Homo sapiens: one gene and its partner. The protein of the gene in region 2 interacts with the protein of the main gene of each other region in a pairwise test. Each region holds a gene or a part of one and is shown on either strand. Other genes may lie near its edges.

Region 1 (7,890 bases), on a different chromosome or scaffold from region 2:
TAGAAGCAGGGCAGCTTCCTTCGCCAGAGGCCTGCGGTCTCCCACTTCCGGCCTAGTCTGCCAGCTTTTGCTGGCACGTAGGCTACCACTCTCCGGGCACCGGCTGGGGTCCTGGAGCCCCCTTTGGGGCGGAGTGGGGAAGGTGTGAGTCAGCGCCCCTGGACGGGCCGGGCTAAAAAAGGCTGTTAGAACCTTTGGGCCGTGCCCCCATTTTCCGTACATGGTGAAGAACTGCAGCCGGGCTTGTGTGCACACGCCACACACTGGGCGTTCCCGGCACGGGAGAGGCCCAGAGTTTCCTTCACCCTGGGAACAGAGCCCTACAGCCAGGGCTTATATGGCCAGCGGGACTCCAACCGGGGTAGCCGCGAGGAAGGCGCTGGCAGAGGACAGAAATGTCCAGTCACCTCCGCTGTCACCACATCCTGAGCACTCGGCCCCATCCCCCCACAGGAGGGAAGCTGTGGTCTGACGGAATGGGCAACTTTCGCCCCTGTGGGGAGGGGACGGGGAAGGAAGAAAGAATTTAAAGGACCGGAATGCGAGAGTCCAGGTGGCCTTGGAGAGGAAAGAGGAACGGTGAAGACAAGCTGCGAGAGCTGGGAGCTGGAGGGTGAAGAGGTGAACACTTGAGTGGTTAGAGCTGTAGATAGACATTGTGGGGAAGTGTGCCAGGGTGGCTTCCAGCTACCCCTGACTTAGAGCCTGGTGGAGGTGTGGTTCTTCAGAAGTCAGCAAAGGGCTCAAGAGCCCCAGTCTATAAATACAGTCACACCCAGGAGACTAATAATAGTAACCCCAGCCACCATGTACTTAGTTTTATCCCTGCTACTGGCTTTATTGCAATATTTATTTTCATCTACAATAGTTGCACATCTACTCAACTATCCGAATATGTCCATTTCGCAGAGGAGGAAAGTGAGGCCCAGGGAGTGCAGATAGCTACAGAGAGGAGGGTCAAAGCACGATTTAATCAAGGCCTGATTCCCAAGTCTGTCCTCTCAATTTCACCTGCATTGACAAGTATTAATTGAACCCCAACTGTATATGTTGCACTGTGCTAGGTACTGTGGAGATGCTGGAGGAACAAGACATAAAATTTCTTTGTGTAGCTGATGTATGTAATGAGAGTAGACAGATGTCAGACAAAAAAGACGAGAAAATGAATAAATAAAAAACCAGGCCAGGCGTGGTGGCTCACGCCTGTAATCCCAGCACTTTGGGAGGCCGAGGCTGGTGGATCACGAGGTCAAGAGTTCAAGAGCAGCCTGGCCAAGATGGTGAAACCCCGTCTCTACTGAAAATACAAAAATTAGCCAGGTGTGGTAGCAGGTGCCTGTAATCACAGCTACTCGGGAGGCTGAGGCAGAGAATTGCTTGAACCCAGGAGGTGGAGGTTGCAGCGAGCCAAGATCGCACCACTGCACTCCAGCCTGGGTGACAGAGCGAGAATCAGTCTCAAAAAAAAAAAAAAAAAAAAAAAAAACTTCAGGCCAGACATGGTGGTTTGTGCCTGTAATCCCAGTACTTTGGGAGGCGGAGGCGGGTGGATTGTTTGAGCCTACAAGTTTGATACCAGCCTGGGCAACATAGACCTTGTCTCTACAAAAAGTTTAAAAATTAGCTGGGAGTGGTGGCTCATGCCTGTAGTCCCAACTACTTGGGACACTGAGGTGGGAGGATCACTTGAGCCTGGGAGGTCAAGGCTGCAGTGAGCCATGATTGCACCATTCCACTCTAGCTGGAGTGACAGTGAGACCTTATCTCAAAAAAAAAAAAAAAAAAAAAAAAAAGGCCAGGCTCGTGGCTTACATCTGTAATCCCAACACTTTGGGAGGCCAAGGCAGGCGGATCACCTGAGGTCAGGAGTTCGAGACCAGTCTGACCAATATGGAGAAACCCCATCTCTACTAAAAATACAAAATTAGCCTGGTGTGGTGGCACATGCCTGTAATCTCAGCTACTCAGGAGGCTGAGACAGAAGAATCGCTTGAACCCGGGAGGTGGAGGTTGCGGTGAGCCAAGATTGTGCCATTGTACTCCAGCCTGGGCAACAAGAGCAAAACTCCTTCTCAAAAAAAAAAAAAAAAAAAAAAGACAATTTCAGAGAGAAGTGAGAGTCATGAAGCTATGAAGCTAGCAAAAGGAGGTTACATTGTGGGAGATGATGGTGAGCTTCTGGCCTCTTTGAAGACATAACTCTTGAGCTGCAACCTGAATGACCAGAAGCCAGGTATATGAAGCACTGAGTGAAGGGCATTGACAGCAGGGGGAATAGCAAGTGCAAAGGTGTTGAAGTGGAACCAGGTTCATCTTGTTTCAGAAATTCAGACGTGTCCTCACAGAGTTGGAAAGCACATACTCATCACTAGGAAAAGTATGTTTCATCCCTTCCACTATTCACTCACTCTTCCGGCAACCGGGGCTGAAAGAGGGGAGCTCTTTCCTTAGTTTTGAGGGGCCCTGTGTTGGCAGAGAGAGCAGGCAGGCCCTTGGGTTGAATCCTCCTGGCCATCCAGTTATGATTCTCCCCCACTTCAAATGAGATGAGAATAAAAACAACTTCTAGTCTGGAGAGTGTGTCCCTCAGGGTACCTCTGGGATCCTGATTCCAGGAGACGAGATGCATGTCTTAGATGCAGAAATTAAGGCTGAGCTGGGGGAAATTACTTGCTCAAAATAACACACTTAGCCAGGCGCAGTGGCTCACGCCTGTAATCTCAGCACTTTGGGAGGCCAAGGCGGGAGAATTGCTTGAGGTCAGGAGTTCAAGACCAGCCTGAGCAACATAACGAGACCTTGTCTCTACTAAAAAATAAATAAATACAAACAAAGTGTCTACAAATGTCACCCAGCCTTGCACCCCAGGAGCCATCCATTCATCTTGCCAATCCCCCAGAAATAAACTTTCCTATTCCTCATGTACGATTGTGCTGACTGGCCCCTCTCTTCAGAACCAGGAAACTGAGGCCCAACATTTAGGGCCAGGACTTCCTTGGGATTGCAGAACACAGAATCAGACCTTGGGCTCTCTGGGCTCTAACACTACTACAAAATATGTTTTTTTAAAATAGAGACAAGCTCTCACTACGTTGCCCAGGCTGGTCTCGAACTCTTGAGCTGAAGTGATTCTCCTACCTCGGCCTCCCAAAGTGCTAGGATTACAGGCATGAGCCACTGCTCCTGGCCTTGGGCTCTAACACTTGAAACAATGCTTGCCCTATTTCTGAGCAACTCAATGCTCACCAACCCCTATTCTCACACAGCCTTTACACTGGCAGGGTCTTATTCTCATCACTGCTCAGAGGTTTATTCCACTGTCCACAATCCATTATCCAAAAACAAAAAGCTCTGGAAACTGATGGTTTTCCCACAAGATAGGCACTATTTGGTTACAAAACCTGACCTGATCTAACGAGGAACAATTTTCTTTCTTCCTTTCTTTTTGTTTTTCCTTTTTTGGAGACAGGGTCTTGCTCTGTTGCCCAGGCAGGAGTGCAGTGGTCTGATCATGGTTCACTGCAGCCTTGAACTCCCAGGCTCAAGCAATCCTCCCACCTCAGCCTCCCGAGTAGTTGGGATTACAGGCACGTGCCACCATGCCTGGGCTAATTTTTTTCTTTTTTCTTTTTTTTTTTTTTTTTTGAGACGGAGTCTTGCTCTGTCGCCCAGGCTGGAGTGCAGTGGCGCAATCTTGGCTCACTACAACCTCCACCTCCCAGGTTCAAGCGATTCTCCTGCCTCAGCCTCCTGACTAGCTGGGATTATAGGCGAGCGCCACCACACCCGGTTCATTTTTTGTGTATTTTTAGTAGAGACGGGGTTTCACCATGTTGGACAGGCTGGTCTCGAACTCCTGACCTCGTGATCTGCCCACCTCGGCCTCCCAAACTGCTGGGATTATAGGCTTGAGCCACCGCGTCCGGCCGCCTGGGCTAATTTTTAAAATTATTTGTAGAGATGAGGTCTCACTGTGTTGCCGAGGTTGATCTCCAACTCTTGGGCTCAAGCGATCCTCCCACCTGAGGCTCCCAGAGTGTTGGGATTACTGGCATGAGCCACTGCGCCCAGCCGAGGAACACTTTTCAATCCTTACCCAGTTATTGTGAACGTTCATACCTTTTCTTGAAGAAATACCGTTTTTGTTGTTGTTGTTGTTTTTGAGACGTAGTTTCGCTCTTGTTGCCCAGACTGGAGTGCAATGGCATGATCTTGGCTCACCGCAACCTCTGCCTCCCGGGTTCAAGCGATTCTCCTGCCTCAGCCTTCCGAGTAGCTGGGATTACAGGCATGCGTCACCGTGCCCAGCTAATTTTTGTATTTTTAGTAGAGACGGTGTTTCTCCATGTTGGTCAGGCTGGTCTCGAACTCCCGACCTCAGGTGATCCACCCGCCTCGGCCTCCCAGTGTTGGGATTACAGGCGTGAGCCACCGCGCCTGGCCCTTTTTTTTTTTTTTTGTAACGCGGCAGCTCCAAACCCCGCTGAGAGTATATGCATGGGAAAACTTTCTGAAATCAAAAATATTCCGAATTCTGGCAACATACTGGGCCCCAAGTCTTTCGGATTTAACTCTGCCTCGGCCGTTTTATTCAGTTAAGGAAACTGAGTCACTCCATCCCAAAGCCAGATTCCCGCGGTTCTAAGCTGAAGCTGTCTCGGGTGCATTTGCATTCCAAAAAGGCGAAGGGTCCCGCTATTACTGCTCCTGGTACCTGGAGCTGCCAAGCACCCCTGCGATGGGGCGCCCCGGGGGCTGTGCGCCAGGCTGGGAGTATCCTTGGGGGGCGGGGCGAGGGGGCTTCCGGGGCGGCAGCCACCTGGCCCGGCTCCGGCCCCGCCCGCGTCAGCTCTGCGCGGTGATTCACTCCCTCCTTCGCCCCGGGGCCCCCTTCCCGGCCAGACGGCGGGCAAGACAGCTGGGTGTACAGCGTCCTCGAAACCACGAGCAAGTGAGCAGATCCTCCGAGGCACCAGGGACTCCAGCCCATGCCATGGCGGATTCTGAGCGCCTCTCGGCTCCTGGCTGCTGGGCCGCCTGCACCAACTTCTCGCGCACTCGAAAGGGAATCCTCCTGTTTGCTGAGATTGTGAGCGTTCTGGGGCAGGCGCGTGGGCAAAAGCGGGATGGGGTGGCTGGACCATGCGGAACTGGATGGTCCGGGTGAGGCAGGCACTTGGCCGGGGCGCTCGGCAGTGGGGTGCAGGTGGGTGGGTTCACGGTGGAGGCCCGAAACCCGGGGCGCAGGGCGAGTCGGTGGGGTTTGACGAAGGTTGTTGAGATCTGGTGGTCCCCGGGGTGAAGCAAGGAGCCTATAACGCATACGGAGGGCTACGTGGGGACAGCCTGCGTGAACTCATCAGTGGACGCATCGAAGGGGTCCCAGGGTGCTGGGAAGTGGGGGCCTCCTGTGGCAGGGCGTGGCGCGGCCTGGGCACAGGAGGGCGGGCTGGCAGCGCGCCCAGGGGCAGGGCCTGTTGGGGTGGGGCCCCCCCGCCCCGCGCTAGTCCCGCGGTGTAGAGCGCCCCGCCCTTCGCCAGTTCTTCCTCGCCCTTCAGAGGCCGGGCGGGATGTCCTTAGCTTTTCGGGGTTTCCACCCTTCTCAAAGTGGGCGCCGCCTTTGAGTCACTTGTAAAAGGGGTGCGGCGCCTTTAACGGAGTCCTGCCTCTCTGGTGTCACTCTCACCGCTTCCCAAAGGGGTTGCTGGGGGAACCGCGTGTTCCGCCCCGGTCAAGGCCACAAAGCTGGCGTCAGCGGGGCTCACAAAACACCTGGCAGCGCCACTCCCCTCAGGCTGCCCGTAACCTAGAAGGGAAAAGAGGAAACTGAGGCACCCAACTCTACTCCTTACTTGTTGGGTGACCCTGGCCAAGCCATTAAACCTCTCTGTGCCTCAGTTTTCTCGTCTATAAATTAGAAAGAGTAATAATAGTACCCAGAGCATTAGATTGTCGTGATGATTGAATTTGGAACACAGTGAGCACATAAAAAGTGTTTAGCTATTATTGTATGTCATTTCCCCAGCCCTCGTAGGCATCTTAGTATGGGACCCCCAATTTAAACCAATCTTCTCAGCCCTGGTTGCTGATTGAGGTCCCCTTTCCCATGTCACCCTTCCAGATATTATGCCTGGTGATCCTGATCTGCTTCAGTGCCTCCACACCAGGCTACTCCTCCCTGTCGGTGATTGAGATGATCCTTGCTGCTATTTTCTTTGTTGTCTACATGTGTGACCTGCACACCAAGATACCATTCATCAACTGGCCCTGGAGTGTGAGAAGGGGTCCACAATGGCAAGACCAGGGAGGGGTCTGGGCAGTTAGGATTGTCGGGGAACTGTGGTTGCTGACTTCCCTCTTCTCCTCCCTACACCTCACAGGATTTCTTCCGAACCCTCATAGCGGCAATCCTCTACCTGATCACCTCCATTGTTGTCCTTGTTGAGAGAGGAAACCACTCCAAAATCGTCGCAGGGGTAAAGGCCATGGGAGCAGCTCTGAAGCACAGAGCGAAGGGTTTGAGGAGCCAGGGACCATTTCTGCCTTTGCTTCTGGCAGAAATCGTGTGACCCACAGCAAGTCACACTTGTCCTCAGACATGGAGGAAAGTCTGGCCCAGGACTTGGTTTTGCCTCCCAAGGTCTTCATTTGCTGTGAAGGGAAGTCCCTTGTCAGACACAAGGACCTTGGTGAGAGGTACAAACAGGCGGCCCCTTTGTCAATGCACTAGACTACCATCTGCAAGAACTTTGTCCCAAATGTAGTAGAAATTGGGGCCGGGCGCAGTGGCTCATGCCTGTATTCCCAGCACTTTGGGAGGCTGAGGCCGAGGCAGGCAGATCACTTGAGGTCAGGAGTTCAAGACCAGCCTGGCCAACATGGCGAAACCCCATCTCCACTAAAAATACAAAAATCAGCCGGGCATGGTGGTGGGCGCCTATAGTCCCAGCTACTCAGGAGGCTGAGGCAGGAGAATCACTTGAACCCAGAAGACAAAGGTTGCAGTGAGCCAAGATCATGCCACTCACTCCAGCCCCAGTGACAGATGGGTGACAGAGTGATACTGTGTCTCAAAAAAAAAAAAAGTATGACTTGAATTGTGCCCCCTACGGGTAGGGCCACAGTGTGGCCTCCCTGTGTTGAGAGGTATAGGAGGAGGGAGAGTGGGGTAGGATGCACTCTCTTGGCCTTTCCCTGGCTTACCAACCCGGTGCTTGAGTCCCATCCTGCGTGGGGCAGGTGCTGGAGGTGGTGGATACAAGAAGATAAGAGACTGAGTAACCTGACCAGCTAATCTAAACCCCCTCACTCCTATCCTGTCCCCCAGGTACTGGGCCTAATCGCTACGTGCCTCTTTGGCTATGATGCCTATGTCACCTTCCCCGTTCGGCAGCCAAGACATACAGCAGCCCCCACTGGTAAGTGTGTGTGTGTGTTGGTTGGGGGTAAGGGGGTTGCTGAGAGGGCAGAGGGAAAAAGGAAAGGGATCTCTTAAAGGCACGAATGCCAACTCTGGTCTCGTATTGGTACTTAGGGCTTTTGTACCAATAGGTACCATAAGCTTCGGTATTCTTGTGTGTAAAATGTTCATGGACTTTGGATCTTGTTTTAAAAAATGGGCATATAGATTCAGCCAATGCTTTCTCTCTTTTCCTCACCTGCAGACCCCGCAGATGGCCCGGTGTAGGCGAACTTCCCTCATTTCTCTCTGCAATCTGCAAATAACTCCTCCATTGAAATAACTCCTCCCCACCCCAACAACAACATTCCCAGCAGACCAACTCCCACCCCCTCTTTGAGGTAAAAGTGCCTTTATTGGGAGACTTTTGTCTTCCAGCCTGCCAATCAACCCTCCTGGGTGTGGCCACCATATGTGTGTGCCTAGGTCCT
Region 2 (7,666 bases):
TGAAAATAAAAAGTTGGAATATACATTTGTTTTTGGGAGTATTCAATACTTTTAAGGAAGATTAATATGTTTGTGAAATACAGGGGAAAGCTTTTAGTACAAGTTAAGTATAGATAAATCTTAGTTTTTAAAACATAGGCAGATTTTATTAGATGTGTTAAGTAGTAAGTAGAACATGTGTTAGACACAGAAAGGAATAGAAAGTCCAGGATACCTAACATTCCTAGCTACCAAGTATACATGAGACACCTGAGCATGAAATATTTGATACATTAAATGTCCAAGAGGCACTAAATACAGTGCATAAAATATACATAAGCATGAAATAGTCATGCTATTCACTTCTGTCCCCAAGTGTCCTCTGTCCAAGAAACACAGTAAAACCCATGGTTGCTCCACAGGCCAACAGGCAAAGCTCAGCTCTTTGCTAGGCTTGCTTGTACCTGCATCTCGGACAGAGCAAGTTTGTGTCATTGGCGTGGGGCACCTTGCCTCTTTGAGTCTCCTTGCTCAAACCTGTCGTCTTCAGCACCACGATCCACAGGAAAGTCAATATCACAGAGAGGGGTGGAGGTTGGGGCAGGTGGGGGATGGTGGCCCCTGAACATTGTATGAGGTAGGCTTTAGGTAGCAGGCATCTTCCACCAGATTTGCACCGTCTCTTGACAGCGTTTACTTATCCCATCTCTTTCCTCTTGCTTTTCACTGTCTCTTTAAATTGATTTAAATAAACTAAGAGATTCAAGCATTTTAATTTGATCTGTGAGCTTTTCTGCTCACTGATCTCTGAGGTAGTATACCTGGAGGCCATCGCATTTCCCACATGATAACAATTCATATCAAAATACGGAATCCATTTGGGGAAGTCAGGTAGATTGCTTCCCTTTTCTTCCTGAGAATGGATAGTCTGCATATAGTCTTAGCCGTCCATGTGTTGAATGATCAACTTTTCTATTTATGTAGAACAGGTTTTAATCACACATACACTCCTTCCTGATACAATTCCCCATGTGTAAGCATCCATCTCCACCTTCCTTGCTCCATTGTTTATCCGACAGCCATGAAGTGAGTGCTCACCATGTGTGCCAGGTGCTATCCTAGATTCTGAGGGCTAAAAGGAAAAACACAACCCTTCTGAAAGACACAGCTTTGGTAAATAAATTAACATATTGAATGCAATGGCCTGGGGCAGTCATGGGCAGCTTGACTGATTAGTGAAATGTTGAGTTTTTGAATGACACAGGGCCCATGATGTCAACTCAATTTTTCATTTTTCTTTTCTTTTTTTTGGAAATGGAGTCTCCCTCTGTCACCCAGGCTGGAGTGCAGTAGAGTGATCTCGGCTTACTACAACCTCTGCCTCCTAGGTTCAAGCGATTCTTCCATCTCAGCCTCCTGAGTAGCTGGGATTACAGGCGTGCACCATCACACCCGGCTATTTTTTTTTTTTTGTATTGTTAGTAGAGACAGCGTTTCACCATGTTGGCCAGGCTAGTCTCGAACTCCTGACCTCAGGTGATCCATGTGCCTCAGCCTCCCAAAGTGATGGGATTACAGGCGTGAGCCACCGCTCACAGCCTATTTCAGATTTTAAAAGACTCTTCACTGCAAGAAACAAATGCAACTCTGGATGTCCTAAGCTTCAACAGAGGACGTGGGGGTAAGTACATGAGAAGGACACAGGTGTATCTGGCTGAGGCCAAGGCAGGAAGAACCAGAGCCAGGGTACAGCCAGGGCAAACTGTACATGTGGCCTTTGTTCTCCTGTCTGCCGACCACCCCTCTCATTTCTCACTCCACATCTACTTGTCCATTCAACACATGTTTACTGAGTACTGGTTATGGGCCAGGCACTGTGCTAAATGCTGCATAAATATCATCACTCCCATGAAACAAACATGCAAAAAAGGGGGAGGTAGGCTCTACGATGATTAAGCCAGTTACAGAGCAGGTTAGCAGGGAATTGTCATGGAAGGAAAGATGCTGTCGGGGGAAATGCAGATGAGTTGAAGTTTTAAATCAGGTGATTAGGGAAGGTCTCTCTGAGAAGTGACATTTGCGTAAAGACAGAAAGGAGGAGAGGGCGTGAACCAGGAGATTGTCTGGGGAGGCGTTCCAGGCAGATGAAGCAGCTGAGGGCAAGAAGGAAACACAAGTGAGGGGGAAAGAGAAGATGCTGATGTCAGGGAGGAGGATGTGTGGGGCTTTGCAAAGCACTGCCTGAGAAAAGGGGTGCCACCAGAGGGTTTTGGGGAGAGAAATGGCACAGTCAGACTTCTAACCCAAGTGCTCTGGTCACTGTGTTGAGAACAGACTAAGAGACAGAAAAAAGACTCTTCACTGCAAGAAACAAATGCAGAGTTAGGACAGCTCTGCCATTTGCTGTGTGACCTTGTAGTCTGTGCCTCAATTTCTTCCATGTGTAAAGCAGGAGATAATCATAGTCGTCACTGCACAGAGTTGGTATGAAGTGTAAGTTAGTTAACATATGTAAAGCGCTTCCAACAGTGGCAGATAATAAGAACTGCATATGCTTCTGCTAATATTTTTATGGCTCCAATGAATATGATCCAGAAGTAGATGGCAGATAGGTTAGGTTAAGAAAATAGGCGGTTTTTTTTTTATGATTTCATTTATTTCTTGGGGAAAGAGTTATTGACCTTGCTCTTCAAACAAACCTATAAAATACTCCCAAAGATGTAGAAATTGGTATTGTAGACACTTGATAGACATGAATTACCTGGGCAGACTGCAACTTGGGATTTGTTTTTGACGTTTTTGTTCAGGGACTTCTTAATTTGTAAAGTCAACACATTCAGGCTCCAAAAATGCTAAACTAATGCTTACATTGAAGCTCAATTCCCTTTCTTCATGAGCTCTTGTGTTGTGGGAGATGATCTCTACTGCTCTTGCTGTGTGAGTACACACCTGTGTGTGTACCTGTGTTTGTCTACCAGACACAATTCTTACTCAAAGCCTCTTTGTGGGAAAAACAAAACAAAACACCCAAACCTACTGATAGGCCTCAGTGACCAAAGACTAGAAACTTAACATTCCCTGACATAATTTTGATTACACCCTTTTGACACATTTGTGTTCCAGGGTTCCGATAATTCAGTGGGCCCCCAGTGAAGAGCTAAGCTATCTCCTAACAACGTTAATGCCAACTAGAAATATTCCCAAACACAAATCATTGATTGTTTTACTCTGGTACTAATTGAAATAGAGCAGAAACCAATTTCTTTAATTTATTTTATGACATGTTTTGATGGACTTTACCTACACAGAAGAGCTATGTGTTCTGGTTGAGGAACGACACTGCAAGAAGCAGCATATGGTAGAATTAAGGACGCAGGCTTTGACATTAGACCTTACTTTAAATAATAGCTCTACCAGTGACCAGGACTGTAGGTAATTTAATTCTCTGAGGTTCAGCCTCTTCAAGTATAAGGTGGGGAAGGGCTCGAGGATCATGGTGGATGATCCTAATTAAGGTTTGAGGCTTGCACCTGCATAGGGAAGAATGAGTCCCTAAAGCCATTCCCTGCTGGTTAAGACAAGTCTCATTAATTGTTCAGGAAAGTCTTCAATTAAATTGAAGGTCTGGCATACTGCAATTCCTGCAAGTTCTTAGTTATTATCAGCTCTGGCTGGTTAGAAGCAGCTATGATAAACACGGGCTTCAATTTAGCTATCTGGAAGGTAGGTGCTGCTGCAAGTGGAAAGTTTGTCTTTAAGAATATGCGCTGCAATTTGCTTTATTCACTGATGATTATATTGATCGGAGTTGTCTATGTTGATACTTGTAGGGGATGAAGGAGAGGGAGAAGTCAACGATGACAGCAAATTTTAGTGTAGAGCAACTGAGCGAATGGTGGTGCAGGAAACACAGAAGAGGAGCGGCTCGGAAGTGGGAATGGAGATAACATCATACTGTGGACATTCGGAATCCACAGAGCTGCGTGGAAATCAGATTTAACTTGCTCTCTCTCCCCATTTAAGATGCTTCTCAAGTAGCCTCACTCCCTAAAACAAACGGATATTTGGCATTGCGCCACATTATTCTGCAGCTGCCATATTTTCTTGCAGGTGGAAGGCAGGCCCTTCCTGGTGTAAACAAACAAGATCGGGCCAGAGTGACAATCCTCCCTGATGGCCCGCACCTGGTTTATACCCTCTATTAATGGGGTCCTTCAAAATCATCAGATGCCCTCCTCCCGCAGCGGTGGCCTCCACCTCTGGCCTGGCCCAGCTTACGTGGTCCAGCTTGTGCAAGATCCAATTCCAACTCCGGGTTTCCGGCTTTTGGCCACTCAGGATTGGACCTGGGACTGGAGCTGGTCGGCCCTGCAGGTGCTGGGCCTGGGGACTGAGGAAGCACAGAGATTCCCCGCCCGGTTCCCCGCCAACGGCGCTAGCCGCGATGCCCCGCCTCACTCCCCGCCCCCGGGATGCAGGGCGCGTGCTGGTAATCCGCGGCTCAAGCCCCGCCCCCACTGTCCCCATTCTCCGCTCACCTCTCTCCAAGGACACTGCGCACGCGCCACGACGTCCCGCCTTTCTCCCCGCCCTGCCGCGGCCCCGGGGCGCAGCGCGCACGCAATCGCGTTTCCGGAGAGACCTGGCTGCTGTGTCCCGCGGCTTGCGCTCCGTAGTGGACTCCGCGGGCCTTCGGCAGGTCGGTGCAGGTCTTTGGAGAGTATTGTTTTTATTTTCTGCCACTTTTAACTTTTAGGGATTATTTAGGAGTTTCACGGCCGTCTGCTTTTCGTCCCCCCGATTCAGCGGGCCTTTATGCCGTGTGGTCGGTGCTTTTCTCCTTGGGTATTTTCTGCTTGTCTTAAAAGAGGCTGTGGATGCTCGGAGCACCTGAGCTCCTGAGGCAAAGGCTTACCCTTGTAGCATAGTGTTGCCTCGTTTCCTGGTGGTTTTGTTGCTCCAGCTCTTTAAAAGCCTCCCTTACTCAGTGCCGCCTCGAGTTAAGAACTGTGGGCAAGATCCCAAGCCCGCTGCCCTTCCCCGTTTTATGGGAAATTAATTCTTTCTTTTTTTGGGGGGTGGGGAGGGGTTCTCGCTGTGTCGCCCAGCCTGGAGTGCAGTAGCCTGAATATGTCTTATTGCAGCCTCTGCCTCCTGGGCTCAAGCCATCCTCCCACCTCAGCCTCCCAAGTAGCTGGGATTACAGGTGCATGCCATCATGCCCGATTTGTGTGTGTGTGTGTGTGTTTTAATAGAATATGGGTTTCACCATGTTGACCAAGCTGTTCTCGAACTCCTAACCTCAGGTAATCCGCCTGCCTGGGCCTCCCAAAGTACTGGGATTACAGGCGTGAGCCACTTTGCCTGGCCTAATTCTTTAAACAGAATAAACGGCGTATGCATTGCTTTCCATCTTGTTAGGTTCACTGCATACAGAATACTTTTCTGTAAGAAAATAGGAGCTGTTTTTCCAAGGGTGCAATGTCACATGTGATTCTGACTTGAGTTTCCGTGTATTTTACCCTCCCCTTCTGCCCTCCTAACGAGAACTGTGAGTTGGATGCAGAAGTTTCTAAAAAAAAAAATTGAGTATTGAAATTGGCTGTTGCATCAGTGAAGAAAAGCAACATCCCTACCACCCCTCAAAAGAGACATTAAAGTAGTTGGATTAAGGGCACGGGAGTATTTGCTTTCCGATTTAGTGATAATGTGAGTGCTTAATGAAATGACTAACACATTCCCTGATTATAGAGCTGGTCAGTGGATCTTGCTGAGTTTCCTGTGGACCTATGTGAAATGATCGGCATCTGTTCAGGGTTTACTAGGTGCTAAGCACCTTTACATGTGACATCCATTGAATGCTCACAACACCCCCAGGAAATTGGTACCAGTGTTATCCTCATGGTACAGTGAAGGATACTGAGACTTAGGTTGCATAGCCTGCAGGTTGGACACACTTCTTTCTGACTGCTGGGGAGCTGTGCTTTTAACCACTGCTGATCCGGCTTGTTTTCCCCAGATGCAGGCCTGGGGTAGTCTCCTTTCTGGACTGAGAAGAGAAGAATGGAGAAGCCCCTCTTCCCATTGTGAGTAGACAGTAAATGGTTAGAGAGTAGCCAGGAGCTTCTGGAAACCAGAGTTCCTTTCCTCAGCTGAAAAGAACCCTAAGAGTAGACTGCCTGGGATGGCGTGCGGGATGGGAGGATCACTGGACCTGTGGGCCAGAAACTTGGGTTTGAGTCCCAGCTCTAGCTTTGCTTAGTTGTGTGACTCTCAGAAAGTCATCCAACCTCTGTGGTGCTTATTTTCAGTGATAGTACCTGTGGGCACATAGGACCTGTGGGGAATGATTACCTTTTAGCCCCATCCTATGACAATATGGTTTGTTTTTAAATCCAGGTTAGCACTGACTTCTCACTGACTTCTCTTGTGTTTTCAGAGTGCCTTTGCATTGGTTTGGCTTTGGCTACACAGCACTGGTTGTTTCTGGTGGGATCGTTGGCTATGTAAAAACAGGTAGGGTTTTGTTGTTACTTAGCCTCTTAACATCTTCACGTTGTTCCAGTGAAATGTGAGTGCCTGTGTCCCTGAGAAGCAATCTCGTTTGACTCAGCTTTGCTGTAGGTCCCCAAGCTGGAGTGCAGGCTTCCTTGTCAGTCTTGCAGCTCCTGCCCTTGCCTTTTGCTTATCTGGTGAAGCTGAGCCAGGCCTCTTGTGGAATTACTTATTTTTGCCTCTTTATCTAAAGGTAGGCAGGGGTGGTTGTAGTTTGTTATTATCATTGACTGCCATTCATCAGCCATGACCCCCAAGTGCCATCTCTGGGCTTAAGTAGGAGTCAACCTCTGGCCTACACAGACTGGTATTTTGAAGTTTCCTCATTAGGCCAGGCAGGGGTGTGTCAGTGGCTGTGCTTGTTTTTGCCCCCTAGTCCTTGCCTGCATTCCCACCCCAATCCCTGCACCAGACTTCTTATTCTCCTGATCTTCTATTTTTTTTTTAACTGCCTGGCCCTATTTCCTTCTGCTTTTGTGATTTGCTGGAGGTCCTGCCTGTACACAATTCCAGCCCTTCATGGTTGATGAGGCCTGATTAGAAAGTGTTGTACTTGAGCGAGTTAGAGAAAACGCCACACTTTGAGACGAATTAAGAGTCTGTTTATTTAGCTGGGGCCTAAAAGACGGCTAACACTCAAAGTTCTCTCGGCCTTGAAGAAGGGGCTAGATTTTCTTTTATACTTTGGTTTAGAATGGGGTGGGGGGGGGGTCTAGTTAAAACAATTTTACTGAAGTAAAGTAGGCAAAAAAGTTAAAAGGATAAATGGTTACAGGAAAGTAAACAGTTCCAGGTGCAGGGGCTTTAAGACTATTACAAGGTGATGGACGCGGGGCTTTGGGCATTATCAATCGGACGAATTCCTGGGAACTGCGGATATAGCTCGCCACAGTATCTTATCAGTTAATTGCATTCTTGGATGTGCTGGGAGTCAGCTTGCACAAGTTAAGTCCTTGAGGACGGGGCTGCCAGTGAAAGAGCCAAGATGGAGTCTGTCTGGCTCTCTTAGCTAAGGAAGAGTCAATTCAGGTGGAAACAAGGCTAGGTGATTAAAGGAAAGGGAGAGTCTAAAAACAGGGTTAGTAAAAACAAGGTTAGGCATTACAAAAGAAGGCCTAGTCATAGTTCTGTC

The links. Proteins that work in one complex are often made in the same cells at the same time.
Region 1: the proteins of TMEM14B (region 2) and PLP2 interact in binary tests that used the Homo sapiens proteins (3 or more experiments, as listed by UniProt).

The regions. Positions count from the first base shown.
Region 1 is NC_000023.11:49,167,008-49,174,897, forward strand, and holds the start of PLP2 (proteolipid protein 2), read left to right. Parts: upstream 1-4,890; 5' UTR 4,891-4,993; coding exon 4,994-5,089; intron 5,090-6,121; coding exon 6,122-6,274; intron 6,275-6,380; coding exon 6,381-6,476; intron 6,477-7,327; coding exon 7,328-7,418; intron 7,419-7,664; coding exon 7,665-7,687; 3' UTR 7,688-7,890. UniProt on the Homo sapiens protein: May play a role in cell differentiation in the intestinal epithelium.
Region 2 is NC_000006.12:10,743,204-10,750,869, forward strand, and holds the start of TMEM14B (transmembrane protein 14B), read left to right. Parts: upstream 1-4,601; 5' UTR 4,602-4,678; intron 4,679-5,998; coding exon of another isoform or gene 5,999-6,042; coding exon 6,043-6,065; intron 6,066-6,418; coding exon 6,419-6,495; intron 6,496-7,666. UniProt on the Homo sapiens protein: Primate-specific protein involved in cortical expansion and folding in the developing neocortex. May drive neural progenitor proliferation through nuclear translocation of IQGAP1, which in turn promotes G1/S cell cycle transitions.